Regions from separate parts of the Homo sapiens genome. Here region 1 is linked to region 2. A link means that fine-mapping ties the variant in region 2 to the plasma level of a protein whose gene starts in the linked region. Region 2 holds a variant in brackets. A gene starts in the other region. All regions are shown on their forward strands.

Region 1 (11,028 bases), not on the chromosome of region 2:
GTTCCAGATAGAGGCAGTAAAAAGGGTAGGGAGAGATTATGTATTCTGACAAGAAATCCACATGGCCTGTGGTATTTGGATGTAGACAGGGTCCTGCCTTTTGATAGGAAAAGCTCTAATTCCCAGGTACAGCTTATCAAAGTGTACTTGGCAGGTGATAAAATCCAAACAGAATTCACAAACCAAGTTAGCAAAAGTAAACACTTCACTGTCTGGTGATAAATTGAAGCAAGGTTATTTTTAGAGAGTCACACATAAAAAAAAAAAATCCCCAAACCATCTTTTATATCTCTTCCAGACTGCCTTTTTCTTTCCAAAAAGCTTCTAGACCAGAGCACTGGGAATGTTCTTGTAAAATTCAGCCATGGAAAAAACAGGGTTTTGTTCTATGACAAAGTCTCCTTGACTGTGACATAGAAATGAACTCTATTTTTATTAGTCACTTCTATATGTGGTCCATTGAAGTGGAAATTTTTTTTTTTTTGCTCTTATGTTTAACATGAACCAATTCTTAGGCTGCTTATATCCTTTTCTAATTTTTAATGTATGAAATCTCAATACTAGTCTCCATTGTTTTCCCCAGGAGACAATTTCTTTCTAATAGTCCGCAACTATGTTAGGTTTAGGGCTGGCATCACCATTCCATGATTCTCCCTTTAGTGGGCTTTCTGAGTTGAAGAGTCCCTGGTCCTATTAATCCCCATAGGACATTTTGAGACACTGGAGCTCAAACTTCTTAGTTGGGATTAGAGGATTCAGCCACAGATGGTTGCTAGTTTCTGATTCTAGTTGGTTATTTCTGCCCACCACCATTGGTGCATCTGTCTTCTATGGAGGCTGCTGCCCTAATCAACTAGGGTAGGGTGGGTTGTTGGATTTGGAACTATGAATACCAAACACATCTTACAGAATCCAAGCCTGGGAATGCATGCTGTGAAAGCACAGAATTGAATATGGACTTGGCTGACAGATAGATCTGCTTTACCATTTACTATGGGTTTTTGTGAGGCTGGGTCAACTTTAGGTTATTTTCCTTAATCATTTTGAGTATAAACTTGCTATTTTTAGATCAAGGTAAAACACTGAAAAAGAACACTTGGCTGGTAAGATTGCATCAGAAAATTGTATATTTTTAGAGGGCCTGCTTTAATATTCTTATTATTTATACATCAAAATTGTAATAGTCTGTAACTATTACAAATAAACTGATCATTATTAATAATAAATTAATATATTTCTTGATTTATTTGTTTCATTTTTTTTCCCAAGAAAGAGAAACAAGTTCATATAGATTTGTTTTCACACTTTACATAGGAGGTAGGGAGGAATTAACACTTACCTGCATTTTACCAGTAGAGAAACTGAGGCCCAGGCACCACAAAGAATATATCTCAGGTCATACTAGCTGGACTTTCACAGAGATGTTAGTAGAAGCCTGGCCTCTTGATTCTGCAATCCAGGCTTATTGGCAGGAACCCAACCAAGAGCATCCAGCACGTGTTTACCTGCATGGCGAGGCCAGTACTGTAGATGTCTCCAATGATGCCATTATCTTTGATCTTCATGCTGATTTTCTCCACAATATCCTTTAGTACCTGACCAAACAGGGATCTGTAACCTTCCTCTGAACCTACAGGGATCTTGTTGTACATACAGGTCAGAGCCAAGGTTGCCATTGCTCCTGTGTCTGTGAATGACAGAGGGTATAAGATCACCATAGTCACCATCACAGCAATATGAACAGCTAACATTTATTGTGTGCTTATTATATTCTGGCTCCATGATTTTATTTGCTCCTCAGAACAACCTGTGAAACAGTACCTGTAATCATCTCCATTTAAGAGACAAAAAATGGAGGCTCAGAAAAATTAAGTAAGCAGCAGGGCCAAATCTCCATTTGAAAGTTGCATAACTTCGTTAAGGGTGCTAGTGTTACTGACAACCAGAAGTAAATAAGTCCAAATTTTTGGAGGCAGAGATGCCCCAGAAATGTGTGAGGTCCCAGATGTGAAAGGGAGACCAGTCTGTTCTTAACCCCCAGGGAGGATCCTAGAGCAGTGGTTCACCTGTTTGTCTGACAGAAACTGAAACAAGAGAGGTTGCTGATGGGGCATGCATAAGGGAGTGAAAACCTGAGATAATACTATTGCTTAGAGAGTTGGCAGAGGAGAAAAGGTGATCATGAATGCGGGCTGTGACAGTGGCCCCCACAGAGAAGGATCATTATCCATAGAAGGGGACAGAAGGAGGACATGATGTTGTAGAGGGAAAAGCTTCTATTCACAAGCAGCCATATGCTTGCAGAACAAAGACGCAAGGTGGTCCCCGAGTTGCCATGAAGGGAAATATCACGAGTTAGGGTTCCGAGAGTAGCTGTTTAATGGAGAGAGGATATTTGGATGTAATGAGGAGAAGCATCGAAAAGAATGGAGTGTGGGAGCATCAGTAGTGATTAAAGAGAGGATGCAGAGGAGAACTGAAGCAAGACATTCATATTTAATTTGGGAAGAACTTCTGACTTGAATGGCATTACTATTGTTCCCAGCGGAGATTCTGTAGCTGCCAGACATATCAAGTATTATCAATTGTCCTTGTTTCTACATAATACTACCCCCTCTTCCTTCACTTACTCCTCAATTCACCTGCCCAACAAACATCTGGTAAATATCTCCCATCCACAGGCACGTTCACATCCTTAGCTCCTCCTCCATGGGACGCTCTCCTTTGTCACTTCCCTGCCAGCTCCACCATTCAGTTCACGATGCCTCTGATGTTCCCAGCTCGGGGTAGTGGTGACCTACTCACCTACATTGAAGGGAGAGGAGTTGGCCAGCAGGGTCTTGGCAAAGCGGACGGCTATCGGCAAGGTCGCCTCAGAGTTCTTCTGGCACAGTGCCAAGATCGCTAGACTGGGCCCATAGAAGGCTGATGCTTCAGCGTTGGGGCCTCCGAAGGGGATAGAGAACCTTCATCAGACTCACAGTCACCACGATGAGGACATTTGCAAAGAAGGAAAAGCCAAGCCTTTGAAAAGGAAATTGCTAGAAAACCTGCCCCCAAAGAGAGACACAGCATAGGCAAAGAGCAACTTCAGTGTTTTTCAAAAGAATGTCATCAGGCATCTGCAAAGAATAAAAGGGATGACTCTGTGTCTTTAGACAGGTGATGGCTGGACAAGCTTGTGTCCTTGGGATCATGACCTTTTCTAGTTCATTTTGGATTGGAAATGAATCTTTCTGGTCTGGATTATCAGAAGGACCAGAGTGAAGGATACATTGTCTCTTCCCTAACTTGCCTTTCTCTCCACCCCCACCCTTTTCCTTTCTGGGTTTAAAATTCTTAGGTAAAACCATATGCCTGACTCTTTTCTCCCTTCCAGTCAGGTCTTACTGGAAGGTGCCCAGTTCTCCATTTGTCTTTGTAGAATGGATACTTTATCCCCAGGGTCTCGGCAGGAGGAGGTGAGGGCCATGATGGTGAGGCCGAGCTGCCCAATGGTTAGATCTGCAGAGAAGAGAACACAACGGTTAGACAGAGACATCCTCAGGGGACAGCTCTCCAGGAGCCAGTGATGAGTTCTCTGCTTTTTATCTAGAGCATTTTGACTTTTTAATAATATGAGCAGTTCTTTGATCTGTCTTTCCAAAGAAAAAAATATGGAAGAATACGTAAGGGAATATTTAATCTAGTGGCCTCTGTGTAACTTGATGACTCTAGTATTTGGTATTTGAGAATCCCTGGTATTTGATTAGAAAAGCAGCAAAATACTCATATAGATTTATATACAGAAATTTACAGTTGCAAAATAATTTAAACTTTATCTAACTTGAGCCTGCAGGCAGCTCCTGGGAGATAGGCAGAACAGAGATTTTATTATTATTATCATTGCTATTAGTAGTAGTAGGGTTATTGTTACTACAATCATCTGCAAGGTGAGGCTGAGCAGTATCCAGTGACTTGTCTCAGATCCCAGAGTTATGACGTGGCAGAGCCAGAACCAGAAGGCTGCTCTTTCGACGTCTAGTCCAGAGCTCTCCCTGCTTTACTGACCTCCTCCATGAATGCTCTGACTTCACACATGTTTCTTTCCAGGTACCTTCCAGGTATGTAAGGAAAGGTGTTTGGGTAGTTTATTTACAGTCAGAGGCAGCATTGGGGTGGGAAGGACGCTGAGTTGGAATCTGGAGGTGGTATGTGATGTGTGAGATTCAGGGAGAGTGCGAGCGGCTCAGATGTCTCACCGTTGTTGTCGCTGGACATGAGCTGGTAAGTCAGGAGCTTCTGGGCCTTCAAGTTGTAGGCTCCGGCCAGATTCATGGCAATCAGGATGCTGGGGTTTGGGTAGGCTGATGAAGTCACCGAGTTCTCCATGAGTACTTGTATTCCATTGACCAAGGGCTCCTGTGCTGAGGGAACGGCTGAGAAGAGGAAAGCCATTTACTCACCTTCTAACCCTCATTCCTTCTCAAAAACATTATCCCCGTGTCTTTGATGCTTTTTCTTTCTTTCTTTTTTTTTTGAGACAGTGTTACTCTTGTTGCCCAGGCTAGAGTGCAATGGCACGATCTCGGCTCACTGCAAACTCTGCCTCCCAGGTTCAAGTGATTCTCCTGCCTCAGCTTCCTGAGTAGCTGGGATTACAGGTGTGCACCACCACGCCAGGCTAATTTTTGTATTTTTAGTAGAGATGGGGTTTCACCATGTTGGCCAGGGTAGTCTCGAATTTCTGACCTCAGGTAATCCACCCTTCTTGGCCTCCCAAAGTGCTGGGATTACAGGCGTGAGCCACCTCGCCTGGCCATCTTTGATGCCTTTTAGGAGAACACTTGATTAGCATTAGTGTCCTAAGTCACTAAAGAGAAATGGAGAAAATGGTGAGATTTTACTTTTGAGGACAATTAGTTTCTACATCTTCTCAAATAATCCATATCCTTAAGAAAGTGATTTTTAAATTTAGTAACTTCAAGCAATATGGCTCATGACATTTCTCATAGTTTCTATCACTTTCCTGGAAATCACTGATTTCCTTGCATTCATTTTTTTCCTTACTCTTTCATGAAGAGTATTAAAGATTTGGGATATAATTTATCCTCAGTGAGTACCAAAATCTCTCACTAGTATGTAGTGGTGTCTGGTCACAATAGCCACTGAGTGTCTGTCTTTGTACCATCAACCATTATTCCTGCAGTAGTACTTCCATCTCTATTATTTTTATTTATTGATTTTTTGAGACAGGGTGCTGCTGTGTCATCTAGGCTGGAGTGCAGTGGTGTGATTATAGCTCACTGCAGCCTCGACCTCCTGGGCTCAAGCGATTCTCCTACCTCAGCTTTCTGAGTAGCTGGGACCACAGGTGCATGCCACTGCGCCCAGCTAATTTTTTATTTTTATTTATTTATTTTTTTTGTAGAGATGGAGTCTCACCATGTTGCCCAGGCTGGTCTTGAACTCTTGGGCTCAAGCAATCCTCCTGCTTCAGTCTCCCAAAGTGCTGGGATTACAGGTGTGAGCCACTGCACCTGGCCCCATCTCTCTTAATAAAAAACATATAGACTTGTCTCTCAAAGAACTTATGCTATTAAGTCAGGAAGGATGAACAGCACACAATCACACTCAGACTTACCCATTTTGGAATTCCTATAGTGATTGCTATTTTCAACCACTCAGTGTCAGAGGTCACAGCCCCTTCCCCAGGGCAACTGCTTCCCTGACCTCCTTGGAAAAACATCATACTCACAGCATGAACTCTGGGTCTGGGTACTAGTCCCAGCTGTAGCCCAGAGAAGGCTCAGGAGGTAGAGGGCAAACCAGGCCATCTCACTCTCTCGTCTATGTCTCTCATCCACAGGTACCGCGATTTGCAAGTGGAATATTTCTTTACCTTCTCTTATATGTGCTTCCCTTTGTTAAATAATCTGTCCCCAACCCAGCCTCTCCTAACTGCCCCTGTGCTGACCTCTCCTTTCCTGATACAAGTAAGTAAATTTTCATTTGCTTATCTAAGTTTACCGACTATAGACCCTCCAAGGTGTCTGAAGGTGACTTCTAGGTTGCACAGTCATATGAGAAACCTGGGGCTGGGTATGCAGTGAAGGCAATGTTGAGAAAATGTCCTTTACCAAAGGCCTGGGTCAGACATCAGGAAGTTTGGATAATGTGCTAGTATCAACAAGACCTCTTCTAGCCCTTATTGTATCCAATCAGTTACCAGGCTGCTTTTTAGTAACTACTTCACTGGGATTTAGGCCATTCATAGGCATCAGCTCATTTTATGATCCTAGACACCTGCTTTACAACATGTCCTTTTAGGCTCTCAGGCAGGGATCTGCCAGGTGACATCTGGCTTTGTGAAATTAATGATGTCTACCTGGACCTGGATTCTAGCCTAGACTCTTTGAAGTTGTTTGACTTTAGGCAAGAAATGGACCTCGGTTTCCCAGAAATGGTTTTGTTTGATTTCTCTTTCCTTATCTGGAGATAAAAGCCATCTCAAACACCCAAAGCTTTCAGATATTATCTTTTAAAGTAAGTAATTAGAAAATGTGAGATCCATTAAGAATACATATTTCAGATGTGTAGCTACATTATAATGCAAATTATACTTCTTTATAAGGGAGAACTGAAAATGGTATGTTGAAATTATAAAGAAAGGAGTTTTGTTTGTTTTTTTCCTGCATGTAAAGTAGCTCATTTTAAGGGGATATTCTCCAGTGGCGCCCATCTTAGCATAAAAGTCAAAGCCCTTTTCATGACCTATAAGACCTTAGAAGATCTGGCTCCTGGTTTCCTTTCTGACCTCAGCTCCAGGCGTTTTCCCCTTTGCTCACACCGCTCCCATCACACAGAACTTCTTGTGCCCCTTGAACACATCAGCTACCTTTGCACATGATGTCCCCCTCAGCCCAGGACCCTCTTCTTTTAAATAGCCTCATGGTGGCTTCCTCACATCCTTCATGTCTCTGCTCAGAGGTAAGCTTTTAGAGACGCCTTCCCAGGCCACCCTACATAAGATCCTACATCCTCACCTCCACTGACACCCCTCATGCCCCTCGCCTGCTATAACTCATTGCCCTCTGTCGCACTAAGTGTGTGGTTGTTTATCGTTTGTTTATCTCCCTACTAGAATGTCTGCTCCACGAGGGAGGGGCTTTGTCTCTTTGGCTCACTGCTCTATCCTTAGCCCTTACAACACTACCTAGCTCACAGTAGAAATAAAATACTTTTTGAATGAGTGAATTAATGAGCAAATGTAAGACATGGGTAATAAAGCATTTTTTCCCCCTTGGGAAACATGGGTGAGTTTTGTGAGATGAGAGCACAGGGTACATACTGGGGTGTGCTGGACAACTTCTAACATGGCCCTGTGTTTTCACCTCCCGGTATTCATGCCTTGTGTAGTCCTCTTCCCTAGAGTGTGGGCTGGCCTGGGGCCACATTCTATTATAATGAATATAATGCAGCAAAGGTGATGGGATGTGGTTGCAAAAGACCGATTTCCCTCTTGCTTGCCTTCTCTCTCTTGCCCTTCCTGCTCTCATGAAGGCAGCTGCTAAGTGTGAGCTGCCTTATGGAGAAGCCCACATATGGCCCCTGAGAGTAGCCTCCAGCCGATATTCAGGGAGAAAAGAACCCTTCCCCAGTGAGCTTTGAGATGAAGGCAGCCCCAGCTGACATCTTGATTGCAGCCCTGGGAGAGACCCTCCTAAGCCAGAGGACCCATGTAAACCCTCCCTGGACTCCTGACCCACAGAAACTGTGGGATAATAAATGTTGTCTTAGGCCCCTAAGTTTTAAAGTCACTTGTTATGCAGCAATATATATCCAATACATGGTACATGGTGGAAGATGAGGCTGGAAAGACAGTTGGCATCTACTTGGTGGACAGCCTTGCATGCTGTGTGAAGGAGTAGGAGGCAGAATAATGGCACTGCCCACACACCGCCAAATGCCCATGCCCTAATCCCTGGAACTTGTGAACATGTTACGTGGGTTATATGGCCAGGAAGAATTAAAGATGCACATGGAATTAAGGTGGCTAATGAGCTGACTTTAAGAGAGGAAGGTTAGCTTGGATCATCTGGGTGGGCTCAATGTCATCACAGAGGTCCTTGTTAGTGGCAGAGGAAGGCAAGAGCGTTAGAATCAGAAAAGCAAATGTGATGTTAGAGGCAGAAGTCAGAATGATGCAATTGCTGGCTTTGTAGGTGGACAGGGGCCATGAGCCATGCAACGTGGGCAGCCTCCAGAAGCTGGAAAAGGCAAGGAAATGGATTCTTCTTCACAAGCTCTGTTACTAGGGGAGCCCTACGGAAATAGCTGGGAGGGCTTCTTATTTTCTTAAACTGTTGTTTTCCCTTAGCCTTTTTTTTTTTTTTAAGATTGTCCCTGTTCCTTTTTTTTCTTTTTTTTTTAATTATACTTTAAGTTTTAGGGTACATGTGCACAATGTGCAGGTTAGTTACATGTGTATACATGTGCCATGCTGGCGTGCTGCACCCGTTAACTCATCATTTAGCATTAGGTATATCTCCTAATGCTATCCCTCCCCCATCCCCCCACCCCACAACAGTCCCCAGAGTGTGATGTTCCCCTTCCTGTGTCCATGTGTTCTCATTGTTCAATTCCCATCTATGAGTGAGAACATGCGGTGTTTGGTTTTTTGTCCTTGCAATAGTTTACTGAGAATGATGATTTCCAATTTCATCCATGTGCCTACAAAGGACATGAACTCATCATTTTTTATGGCTGCATAGTATTCCATGGTGTATATGTGCCACATTTTCTTAATCCAGTCTATCATTGTTGGACACTTGGGTTGGTTCCAAGTCTTTGCTATTGTGAATAGTGCCACAATAAACATATGTGTGCATGTGTCTTTATAGCAGCATGATTTATAGTCCTTTGGGTATATACCCAGTAATGGGATGTCCCCTTAGCCTTTTTATCTATAGATGCCACTGCTTAAAGAGCTCCAGATGGCCCAGGATGCTTCAGGAGCTTCATGATCCCTTGCCAAATACCAGAGGAAGATAAGACCTGCACCAGACCGGTGCAAACCAGAACCGGCAACCCCTAGTTACTTTTAGATCATTAACATATCATTATAATACTAGATTCCTCTCCCTTAAAAGAAAATCGCTGCCATTTTGTGTACATGCGAGGTATGAAGAAGTATGTCTGGGGACTGCGCCTGCGTGTTTGGAACTCCACCCTCGGCCTGCTTACATACCTCCCTGCCCCATGTCTAACTCTTGAAAATTTCCCTGCTTCCCATTGCTTAAGGAGAATGCGCCTTTAGAGCGAGAGCTCCCCTTCTCCATTCCCTGGCCAGTGAATACGACCCAATTGCTTTTGTCCAATTGCATGTTCCTTCTTTGTGACCCATACAAAGTAGGGAAAGAACTTGGTTTACTGCTGCCACCTCTAGAAGGAACACAGCTCCTTCGACACCTTGATTTTAGCCCAGTGAGACTCTGACTTCCAGAACTGTGAGATGATAAATTTGTCTTAAATAACAAAATTAGTGGTAATCTGTTACAGCAACAATAAGAATCTAATACAGGATTATGAGTACAGTATGGTGCTGACTTTGCATTCCAGAGCCTGCTCCTGATCGTCCTGAGATGATCCACACACCCTTGGCCTGCCAGCTCTTTAACCACTCACTTCCTTGTATTATAAATTACCATTTACAACCAGGGCTGCTGCAAGATTGATCGTGACACAATTGTTGCAGTTAGTAAATAATTCCCAGAACAGGAACCACACAGGCCATACATTTCTTAACAGGGATATTTTGACAGTCCTTGGTTAACTATTGACTGGGATGATGTGTTCATTTATTTCCTTGTTTCTCCTGTGCCTAATATTTTGGTATCAAAGCACCTAGACTCTCTCTGGACATAAGTGAGGTTTATTTGTGGTGATTATTCTTTGCTGTGGCAGCAAAAGGAAGTTTCTCTCTTCAGACTCAGTTCAGGTTCTGTAATAGTCTCAAGCTGTAGGAGCTTCTTGTAAGGCAAGTGTGGCCAATTAGGTTTCTTATTTTTATTTTTATTTTTATGTTTTTCTGAGATGGAGTCTGGCTGTGTTGCCCAGGCTGGGGTACAATGGTGTGATCTCAGCTCACTGCAACCTCTGCCTCCCGGGTTCAAGTGATTCTCCTGCCTCAGCCTCCTGAGTAGCTGGGATTACAATTGCCTGCCAATATGCCCAGCTAATTTTTGTATTTTTAGTAGAGGTGGGGTTTCGCCATGTTGGCCAGGCTGGTCTCAAACTCTTAACCTCAGTTATCTGCCTGCCTTGGCCTCCCAAAGTACTGGGATTACAGGCATGAGCCACCACGCCTGTCCTCAGAACTAGGTTTCAAGGGCCGATGTTAGTGGAACCCTAAGGGAGTGTTATTTCATGTCTACTTCTGAGATTAAAGGCATTTATATCAGACAGCAATGTTACTTACTACATTATACTTTTTTTTTTTTTGAGACAGAGTCTAGCTCTGTTTCCCAGGCTGGAGTGCAGTGGCGCATTCTCGGCTCACTGCAGCCTCCGCCTCCCAGATTCAAGCGATTCTCCTGCCTTAGCCTCCCGAGTAGTTGGCACTACAGGCGCATGCCACCACACCTTGCTAATTTTTGCATTTTTAGTAGAGACGGGGTTTCACCATGTTGGCCAGGATAGTCTCGATCTCCTGACCTAGTGATCCACCTGCCTCAGCCTCCCAATGTGCTGGGATTACAGGCGTGAGCCACTGCGTCCGGCCTACATTATACTTTAAGACCTCTGGCTGGGAGAAACTAGGCTCTGTCTGTTAGAAATAAATGCTAGTAGTGCTAATTGCTAGTATGCAATTCTGACATTTTGCATATTTCTCACCTTAAACCAGTATCCTTCAATTTCACATAGCTTGTATAGGCTACAAACAGATCTGACGATTAACAGCACCAGGGATCCTGGAAGGGTAACATGGCTCCCAGCTTCTCTAATTTAGCTTTATTATTATTATTATTATTATTGTTATTATATTTT
Region 2 (11,028 bases):
ATAGTCTAGAAGTCATTGGTTTATGAATCGGTTCTCCAATGTTGAGTGCATATATATTGAAGACAGTTAACGATTCCTGTTGAATTCAACCTTTTATTATTATACAATAATACTTCTTTGTCCTTTTTTTACTGTTGTTGGTTTAAAGTCTGTTTTATCTGATGTAAGAATAGTGACCACTGCTCTTTATTTGTTTTCCATTTTGCTTGACAGATCTTTCTCCAACCCTTTACTTTGAGCCTATGGTTGTCGCTGCTTGTGAGAAGGGTCTCTTGAAGACAGCAGATGGATGGGTCTTGTTTTTTTTGTTTGTTTGTTTAATCCAACTTGCAACTCTGTGCCTTTTAACTCTGTGTTTGGACAATTTACATTCAAGGTTAATATTGAAATATGAGGTTTTTGTACTTTGAAGTTGTTAGCTGATTGCTTTGTAGTTTCTACTTTGTGGTTGCTTTTTACGGTCTGTGGGCTCTAAAATTAAGTATGATTTTGTGGTAGCAGTCATCATTCTTTCATTCCCATGTTTAGAGCTCCCTTAAGAATCTCTTTTAAGGCTGATCTAGTGGTAATGAATTCCCTGAATGTTGGCTTGTCTGGAAAATTATTTCTCCTTTGCCTTATGCAGCTCAGTTTTGTGGGATATGTAATTATTTTTTGGAATTTCTTTTCTTTGAGAATGCTTAAAATAGGCTCCTATCCTCTTCTAGCTTGTAAGTTTGCTGCTGAGGAGCCTGCTGTTAGCTTTGTGAAGTTCCCTTTTTATGTGATCTGATCTTTTTCTCTAGCTGCCTTTAAGATTTTTTTCATTAATATTGACCTTGAATATCTGGCTACTATATACCTTGGTCATGTTTATTTTGCATAACATCTAACAGGTGTGCTCTGGATTTCTTGTATGTGGATGTCTACTCTTTTGCAAGATTAGGGAGATTTTCTTGAGCTACTCTTTTGCAAGATTAGGGAGATTTTCTTGAGCTATTCCTTCCAATATGTTATTCAGGTTGTTACTTTTTTCTCTCTCTCAGAAATGCCAAGAATTCATAGGTTTTGTTGCTTATGCAATCCCATATTTCTTTAAGACTTTGTTCATTTTTGTATGACTGGAATAGTTCAAAAGACTGGTCTTCAAGTTCTAAAATTCTTTTTCTTGGTCCAGTGTCTTGATAAAGCTTCCAATTATATTTTGAAATCCCTGAAGTAACTTTTTTTCAATTCCAGAAACTCTGATTGATTTCTTTTTAAGATGTATATCTCTTTCTTAATTTTCTGGATTGATTTAGAGGTTTCTTTGTGTTGATTCTCAACATTATCTTGGATCTTGTTTAGCTTCCTTGCAATCTATGCTTTGAATTCTTTATCTGTCATTTCTCAGTTTCCAATTTCATTAGGGACCATTGTGGAGAGTCAATGTGATGCTTCAGTGTTGTCACTACATTCTCATTTTTCATGGTGCCAGAATTCTTGCCCTGGTTCCTTCTTATCTGGAGATCCTGGCACTTCTAATTTTTGTAATTATTTTCATGTGGGCAGAATTCAATCTTTCTCTCTCTCTCCTTTAGACATAGTTCTGCTCTGTCACCCAGGCTGGAATGCAGTGGTGTGATTATGCCTTACTACATCCTCCACATCTTTGGCTCAACTGATCCTCCCACCCCAGCTTCCCTAGTAGCTGAGACTACAGGTACACACCACCATACCTGGCTATTTTTTGGTGGGGGGAGCAGGGGAGAGGCAACGTTTTACTTTTTCCCAGGCTGGTCTTGAACTCCCGGGCTCAAGAGATTCTCCAACCTCAGCCTCACAAAGTGCTCAGATTACAGGTGTGAGCCACTTTATAATGTCATTTTTTTCTTTCCCTTTCCCTTTCCCCTTCTTCCTAGTGAGTGTGAAAGTAGCAAATGTTAGGTTGGGTATTTTGGCTTTGCTTCTACAGCCCTATGCACTTCTGTCAGCAGGTTTTATACTGGGCTGTGTTCTTTGACTTACAAACCAGTAGATGGTGCATATGGGTAACAGCCAGCTGTGGATAACCTGGCTGGGTATATAATTCATCCTTGTTTACTGGAAGACGCTCTCTGTTGTCCCAAGCAATGGGCTGACCATGGAGTTCACAGTGGTCTGAGCTCCCTGCTAAATCCTAGGGCAGCAGGGGGCAGAATGGTTAGAGACAGACTGGGCAGGCCCACCTATAGTTCCCCTGATGGCAGGCACAAGCACTAATGCCAGGGGAGAATCCAGTGAGTGGTCACCCAGCACCCAGAGGTATGCCTAGGTGTGTGGCTAGGAAGCCACACAATCTCAGGAAGCAGGCTGCAGCAATTAGCAATGACACATGCAGACCGGTTCCAGGCATCAAACTGGTCCTGGCTGCAAGTCTCATCTCCCAAAAGAAATTTCAAGCATAGCAACTCTTCTCCCACACCAGGCCTGTAACTGAGGAGAGCACAGTTCCAGTACCTACTGCTGACGTACTTTACATAATTCTGGCTGTGGAAGCCTCTATGCTTCTCCAGAACAAGTGCTCCAATCTCTGCTCCAAGGCAAAAATGCCTGCACAGCTATGCTTCTGAGTTGCCATAACTTTGTATGCACCTGGATTTAAAATGCGATCCTGCTCTCAGTCCCAGGTCTGGGAAATTGCCTGTAACTTCTTTCTCTCTCAGAGCCTCCAAACCTTTCCCCAAGTTAGGTCTGGAGTTTGGGAGAAATAAAGTGCTCTCTCTTGGCCTGGGTTGTTGGATCCACAGTGGGAAGGTGAGTCACAGAGGGAGGCTCTCTGCCTCTCACATACTCGAACTTTACTAACTTTTATGAGCCACACACCATACAAAGGAGGATCTAGGGTGTCCTTCACGATTCTGATAGGTTTCCATCTTCCTTCTTGAATTAAAGCTCAGAGAGTTGACCTTTGTGTGCTGTCTTGCTATTTCCAAGTGGCTGAGACATGCTAAAAAACTCTGATTTGCCATCTCGGGAAAAACAAAACAAATCAAAAGAGACGAAAAACAAAAACACCTTACTAATTTTTGTATCAGTTTTGTATAATCCAAATTATTTTCTTGTTTGAAAATGTCCACTTTTTTTTGCTTTTAAATTAATCAATTTGTGGTAACGTTTCTTTTTTCTTTTCTTTTTTTTTTGTTTTTTGAGACAGAGCCTTGCTCTGTCATCTAGGCTGGAGTGCAGTGGCACAATCTCAGCTCACCGCAACCTCTGCCTCGTGGGTGCAAGCAATTCTCCTGCCTCCGCCTCCCGAGTAGCTGGGACTACAGGTGCCCACCACTACGCCTGGCTAATTTTTCGTATTTTTAGTAGAGACGGGGTTTCACCATGTTGGCCAGGATGGTCTTGATCTCCTGACCACGATCCGCCTGCCTCAGCCTCCCAAAGTGCTGGGATTACAGGCGTGAGCCACCTCACCTGGCCAATTTGTGGTAATGTTTGTTAACCCACTTATCTGAAAATAATGCTTCTTCTGAATTCTTGCTTAAAATTGTTTCTGTTAAAATTTTACACTTTTATTCTTTGTCTTCTTGTTTCCAGTGTTGTCAATGACAACACTGTGGTCCATCTGATTATAATTTTTTGCATGTAATCTTTTATCCTCCAATTTTCTCTGGAAGCTGTTTAGTATTTTGTCTACATGTTTGTTCTGTTTTTTAATGTAGAATTTGTTTTTGCTATTATTTTTCTTACTTTGCTTCTAAAATGCAGGCCCTTTTGGATATAAATCATATGTTTTTGATGTCTGTGAAATTTTCCTTTTTGTTTCCTTGAACATTCCTTTTCCCATATTATCTGTATTCTCTCCTTTTGTAAATCTTATCAGGTGGATGCTGTAACTTTTAGAGCATCACAAAGTGGTTACTAACAGCCTAAACACCTCTTGCAGACATAGCTTGCCTAGCCTGTACAATGTTTTGAAAATAATTATTCAGATATATTACAATTGGTAGATTTTATCTAAAAATATAGATTGCTTACTTTTTTTGCAAAGTGGAAGAGTTGGTAAACTGAACTTGCATTTATGAATGAAAACAATTGTCAGAAAGTAAGTAGTTGCTTCTGCTTTTAGATGGGATATACGTGCTCCAGATTGCCACTGTCCTTTGTGTGCCCTTTGGTCTTCCTGACCCTAAACCCAAGTATCGGTTGCTATGCATCATCATGCTTGCGCTATTTTTTTTTCCAGTTGGAGACAGACATCCTTCAATTGTGTATCTTTCAACGTGTTCACAAGAAAGAGAAAAAGCACAATTTGTTTCCAAAAAGAACAATTATTTCTTAAACTATTTTTTTTTACATATTTATACTGTTAACAAAATGTTGGAAGGTGCCTATACACATACACACACACACACACACACACACTAAAAACAAAGCTTATCATGAATCTATGGAAAGATTCGTGATAAAAATCTTAATGAACTAAAATATGAACTAAAATTTCCACAGGCTTAATTTTTGAATACATATAAAATAAGTTATGTTGTTATAATATGTTACTATGAATTCGTTACAAAATTGCCCAGATGGCATTTTTATTACAGATGGTAGTTTTATAAAAGAGTATCCATTGGAGGCAATAGAAATTATATGTCCTCAACAGAAACAAACATTGAAAATGTAACTAACACTGGAGATTTGGCTAAGAATTTACAGGCTGTGCTGGGAGAAAAAAATAAGTCATTTGTGGCATTGTGTTTTGTAGCTGATGATAACACAGCTATAAATAATGCCAACTATTTATTTATTTATTTTTATTTTTATTTATTTATTCATTTATTTATTTTTTCGAGACGGAGTCTCACTCTGTCACCCAGGCTGGAGTGCAATGACGTGGTCCTGGCGTACTGCAGCCTCTGCCTCCTGGTTCAAGTGATTCTCCTGCCTCAGTCTCCCAAGTAGCTGGGACTACAGGCTCATGCCACCACACCTGGCTAATTTTTGTATTTTTAGTAGAGCCGGGGTTTTGCCATGTTGGCCAGGCTGGTCTCAAACTCCTGACCTCATGATCCGCCCGCCTTGGCCTCCCAAAGTGCTGGGATTACAGGCATGAGCCACCACGCCTGGCCAATGCCAACCATTTAAATGTATCTACTTATCATCACTGACATTTTTTGTATGTTTAAATAATATTTGGAGATGGTAGCCATGACAGGC[C/T]CCAAATTACTTAATCTTTAGCGTTGAGAAAACTTTAAAGCAAATTGATCAAAATTAACTAGTGTATTTATAGATAATACTTAACTGGTGATCAATGTTAGACTTTTTAAAAAGATAACATTTTGCAGATATGGAATTTATGTTTTTACGTTACATTATTTTCCAGAAATAGTTTTGTCAAAAAAAGTTTGAGAACAGAACATATAATAAACTGAAATTCTTCTTAAAATTTTAAAAGTCTTTATATTTCAGAGTAAATCCAAGTCCTTCCCATGACTTACACACAACAAAGTCAATGCCATTCAGCCCCCACCCCCAACAGACTACTTTGACCTCATCTTCTAATGCTCTCCCCTTTGCTTTATCCATTTTGGACATTTTACGGGCCACATGTACAACAGCTCTGTGCCTTAGAGCCATTGTACTTGCTCTTCCCTCTGCTTTCAAAATTCTCTCACAAAGAGTTGAAGGACTGGATCTTTCACTCCATTTGGATATTTCCCAGTTTATTTCTCAGTGGTGTCTTCTCTAGCCAGCGTATTTAACACAGAATCCCCCATCCCTGCCACCTGCTAAACCACACCTTATATTGATTTTCTGCTTTTCTTTTTCTTCACAGCTATACATCTTATTGTCCATATAAATTATTTTCTGCCCCCATCCTCCCAACACACTCAAACCCACATATATGCTTGGAAAGTAAATTCCATGAGGACAGGGCATATTGTTTTTGTATTCTGTTTCATTTGTTTGTTTGTTTTATTTTCAATCCCAGAGTTTTGAAAAGTGTCTCTAACATCAAAGGTTCTCAATAACTATTTGTTGGATGACTAAATGAACGAAGAGAATTTGGTATGTTTTTAGATCTAAAACCTTAGTCTGCTCAAGGTTTTGCTGAGCTGACGAGACACACAATAAGAAATTATTTAGCTTGGCAAGGATATAGAGTTAAAGAAAATTTTATGCTGTTGAAAGAAATCAACATATTCATATCATCCACAGCAAAATTCTTACCCCAGATCACCCAGCAAATGTTGAATTACGTAACTGACCTTTTGGTTGACATTATCCCACATAGTTAAAATATTCTTCCAAATATAATTTCTCTGCAAGTGTGTGCACATGCATTCATATAAGTGTATAAATCAATTTGATTGCCCTGGCAAATAAATATACAGTCATGTGTCACTTATGGTGCAGATACATTTGGAGAAATCTATCATTAGGTGATTTTGTCCTTGTACAAACATTATAGGGTGTTACTTACATACACCTAGAAGGTGTAGCCTACTACACATCTAGACTATATGGTATAGCCCATGGCTTCTAGGCTATAAACCTGTACAGCATGTTACTGTACTGAATACTGTAGGCAATTGTAACACAATGGTAAGTATTTGTATATCTAAAAACATCTAACCATAAAAAGGAACAGTAAAAATGTGGTATAAAAGATAAAAAATGATACACCTGTATAGGGCACTTACCATGAAGGGTACTTGCAGGACAGGAAGTTGGTTTGGGTGACTGAGTGATGTGTGAACATGAAGGCCAAGGACATTACTATACATGAGTGTAGACTTTATAAACACTGTACATTTAGGCTATATTAAATTAATTCAAAATATTTTTTTCTTTAAAATAAATTAATCTTAGCTTATTGTACTCTTTCACTTTATAAACTTTTATTTTTTAAACTCTTTTGTAATACCATTTGGCTTAAAATATAAATACATTTATACAGTTGTACAAAAAGGTATTCCTTATATTTTATTCTATAAGCTTTTTTCATTTTTAACTTTTTTTTTACACTTCTTTTGTTAAAAACTGAGGTAAAAACACACACATTAGATTCTACACAGGGTCAGGATCATCAATATCACTGTCTTCCACATCCACCTCTTGTCCCCCTGGAAGGTCTCCAGGAACAAGAACATGCATGGGGCTGTCATCTCCTATGATAACGGTGCCTTCTTCTGAAATGTCTCCTGAAGGACCTGCGTGAGGCTGTTTTATACTTAAATTTTTATAGCAAGATGAAGCAGTATGCTCCAAAATAATGATAAAAAGTTTAGTAAATACGGAAACCAATAACAATCATTTGTTATCATTATCAAGTATTATGTACTGTACTTAACCATACGTGTTATACTTTTATACAACTGGCAGCACATAGGTTTGTTTAGACCAGCATCACTATGAACATGCAAATAATGTGTTGCCCTACATTGTTATAACTACTACATTACTAGATGATAGGAATTTTTCAGCTCCATTATAATCTTATGGGAATACCACTGTATGTGTGATCTGTCGTTGACTTGAAATAATGTTATGTGGTATGTGCCCTTATACGGGAAACTCATTTGGCTCATTTGTCTATGCTGACATTTTTTTCTTAAATGAACATGATTTCCTAAAATATTTTTCCTGTAATGTACTGTAAATACTGAATTCAAAAATGTGTTTCTGATATAAACCATTACGTAGTGGAACTATTATTGAGTTTGCCTTTCTCCATCAAACCTGATAGTGGCAACAAAGATTTAGGAAAAGATGTTATTGAATTACAGTGCATATGGTAATGTAAAACAAATATGACAACAACAGAATACCAGCATTTTACCAATATCTTAGAATTACTTTAAGATATTGCAAAGATTCTGTTCAGGTTTTTGATAATGAATGATATGAAATATTGCTCCTAGGTAAGAGTATAAGCCCAAATTCTCTATTACATATGTATTTTCCAAAAACCAAAATTCATTATCGAAATTTTGGGGCGGAGGAAAACATTCCGGCTCTCCTGTTCTGTACAGAGGGAGTAACACAGTACAAAAATATATATTAATGTATATTTAATGTCTGTGTTTTCAATGACAGGTTTAATTAGTAACTTAAGTCCTATATGCTTCTGTTATGAAACATACTTACAAATAAGATAGCCCAGTTTATTTTATTTTATTTTATTACTTCCTAATTGCTAAAGGCATTAAGGCTAGCTTCCCTAAGCTGAGGTGTGGGGAGTGTGCATTGGACTGAATCTTCCTAAATTACATAACGTGGAGAGCTTTTGCTGTGGGGACAAATGACTCTGAGACTTTCTAGTTCTTCGCAAAAAGATTCCGTGATTTCACTGGAGAAAAACTCTACAGGTTTTCTTTTTGGTTGTTTTTTTGTTTTCTTTTGTTTTGCTTTCAAAATTTTCCCTGTATGGTTGAAAGAGATGAAATTCTGTGCACAGGGGATCCTTTTTATTTTGTGCAAGTTTTTTCTTTTTGTACTTTGTTTTTTAGCTTCTTGACACTGTTCTTTGACTTCATTTTTTTCCCTGCCTTTCTGATAGGTTTACAGTTATATTATCCTATTTTAAGTCTAGTCATTTGATTTTTATCTATTTTTCTCATCCTCTTTACTCTTAATTTTTTAAATAAATTGATCTGGAGATATCTTGAAAGATACAATTATACTTGATATATTTGTTTAAAGTAACTATTTTTCTAAGTGACTTTTAACAAATCATTTGATACTTAAGATAAAAATTCTCATTCCTTTATATATTAAACTTTAACATATACCTTACATTTGTTTCCTATTATAATTGATTTCTTCATTCATCTGAATTTTTATCACATAAAATATCATTAAATCTTCTAAATATATGGAATATTTGACAATGGTGTTTATTATTTTATTCTTAAATTAGTTTCATAGCCATTTTAATGTATTCATTCTTCCTTATGGTATTTTAAATCACTTGATCAATTTGAGAATATCTCCTTCGAGATTTTGCTGGAAATTTCATTGTCCATATATTAGGAAAAAATTCTGCTATTATAATATTTATATTTCACTTTAGAACTATATACCTTTCTTTTATTTACATTTTCTTTCATTCCACAGTAAAGAGTTCACGGCATTCTTTAAGCAACTCTTACACATTTCTAATTGTTAGCCTGATTTAATTCCATACATATAAATTATATATGTGTGTATATACACACACACACACACACACACACACACACACAAACAATTTTCCTTAAAATGTAAAATGTAAAAATTTGCCAAGATACTTCCATTTTCTTTTTCTTTTTTAATTATACTTTAAGTTCTAGGGTACATGCGCACAATGTGCAGGTTTGTTACACATGTATACATGTGCCATGTTGGTGTGCTGCACCCATTAACTCGTCATTTACATTAGGTATATCTCCTAATGCTTTCCCTCCCCCCTCCCCCGACCCCACGATAGGCCCTGGTGTGTGATGTTCCCCTTCCTGTGTCCAAGTGTTCATTTATTTTAGATCTTATGAACTATTTTCGAGCTGCATGTTTAGTTCATGTTTTTAAATTGTGATAGATTTTATTTCCCATAAATTTGCTTATAGATTTAGCTTAATTTATTGGGATTTTTTTTTTCTGCTAGAATCTCTATATTTGAAAAAGAAAAAATTCTTCTCCTTTCTCTATATCTGTTAAATCTTCTTAGCATTGCCATATCTTTGTTCTTTTATTTTTTTTCTTCTGAAATTTGAAAGAACATTGATGCTGGTCATTTTACGACATTAAAAAATTAAAAGTTAATTTTCTGGGTAATGCCTGATCTTTAAATTATTTTTACAGTAGGTTTTAATTAACCTACTAGATTTTCATGATCTTAAAATTATTTTTTATCTTGCTATTTTATTTTACCTTTCACATTAGCTAACTGCCTTCATCTGGACTACTTATAATATTTTAATATTGGCTTATAATTGCATTTATTTCTGACTTGTTTGAAGACTTGAGGCAGATATTTGAAAAATATTCATTTCTTATGCTAATTTTCAAGAGATTAGTTCTCATCTGGAATAATAATGCTACTTTTTTTTGCACTACGCTCTTTAATAGTTTCCAGACTAGTTTAATTATTCATATGTGAAAGAAGATAAGTGTTATATCGAGCATTTGTTAAAAATAGGTTGCTATAATTGTTTTTAGAGCCTCTTCATGTACTTGGGTGATGATAGACTCTTACCATGGCAAAGTGAGTTTAGATGTGTGTAGCGTACAGTTCAGTGTAAAGATGTGTATAGTGTATAGTTCAGTTTCTGGTAACTGTAGGCTTTCATGTTACATTGTTCTGCTGAAGTAATATTTTTTTTCTCTTTCTTGCTTACATTAAAAAAAGTTTCTGAGAATTAATTCTCAAGAAAGGCAAGCAGAGTTTTTTATTTCTCTCTAGATGTGGAACCAGATTAAAGCAAATTTTGCAGTGCAAAATTGAAGGGGTGCCAAAAAACAGGAATCAAGACAAATTTTATAGGTAAATGTAAATATGTAAATAACATATATATGTGAATACATTGAATTATGTTTAAGTGGTGTGATATATTTTAAAATATTTTAAAAATTAAATTGTCAAGTAATGGCCATGTGTGACTCCTGCTTTTACAAATAACATTTTATTTGAACAAGAACTGGGATTAGGGTGTGGCAGGTGAGTCAGGGTCATAAAATGAGGGTCACATCCTGGCTTTATTTACAATTTTGATATTCTTCTCATCATGAATTTTTTGCATTTAAAAAATATTACTAAAATATTCTCTCTTTATTACTGAGCTTTATATGCCCCCCCTTAAATTTTGTGCTCAGGGTGAGTGCCTAATTCACCTAACCCTTGTTCCAGCTCCACTCTTAAGAATTTTATTCCTAATACATATATCTGGGTTCTGCCTTCAGCTGAATATTTAAATAAAGCTATCCAGCAGATCCTATCACTTCTTCCCATTCCTCTCTCCAGTCCCACCCCCACCCCAACCCCATCTCCACTGAGAATGGCTGAATAAAATAATTTTCATTCTTGAGAATCTACAAAGTGTT

Direction of the effects. Alleles are on the strand shown, and positions count from the first base shown. The strength of an association depends on the size of the effect and on how common the allele is.
For the plasma level of the protein whose gene starts at base 5,862 in region 1, C is the low allele of the variant in region 2 and T is the other (moderate association).

What was found. PIP is the chance, under the fine-mapping model, that this variant and not a neighbour inherited with it causes the effect. Protein levels are from antibody-based Olink assays in UK Biobank. Linkage for the fine-mapping came from a reference panel and not from the study's own genotypes, which makes the PIPs less certain.
Region 1: it holds the start of CBLIF, and the variant in region 2 is fine-mapped to the plasma level of the CBLIF protein (UK Biobank, PIP above 0.99).

Annotation. Positions count from the first base shown.
Region 1 is chr11:59,839,638-59,850,665 of GRCh38, forward strand. CBLIF (cobalamin binding intrinsic factor) reads right to left here and starts at 5,862. Exons shown (of 9, transcript NM_005142.3): 1 at 5,738-5,862; 2 at 4,242-4,418; 3 at 3,391-3,504; 4 at 2,806-2,946; 5 at 1,506-1,687. The coding sequence starts at 5,816.
Region 2 is chr6:119,940,262-119,951,289 of GRCh38, forward strand. No RefSeq gene overlaps it. Among named protein-coding and RNA genes, the nearest start is that of MIR3144, 69 kb to the right of the region's middle. The variant C/T (reference allele first, on the strand shown) is at 5,164.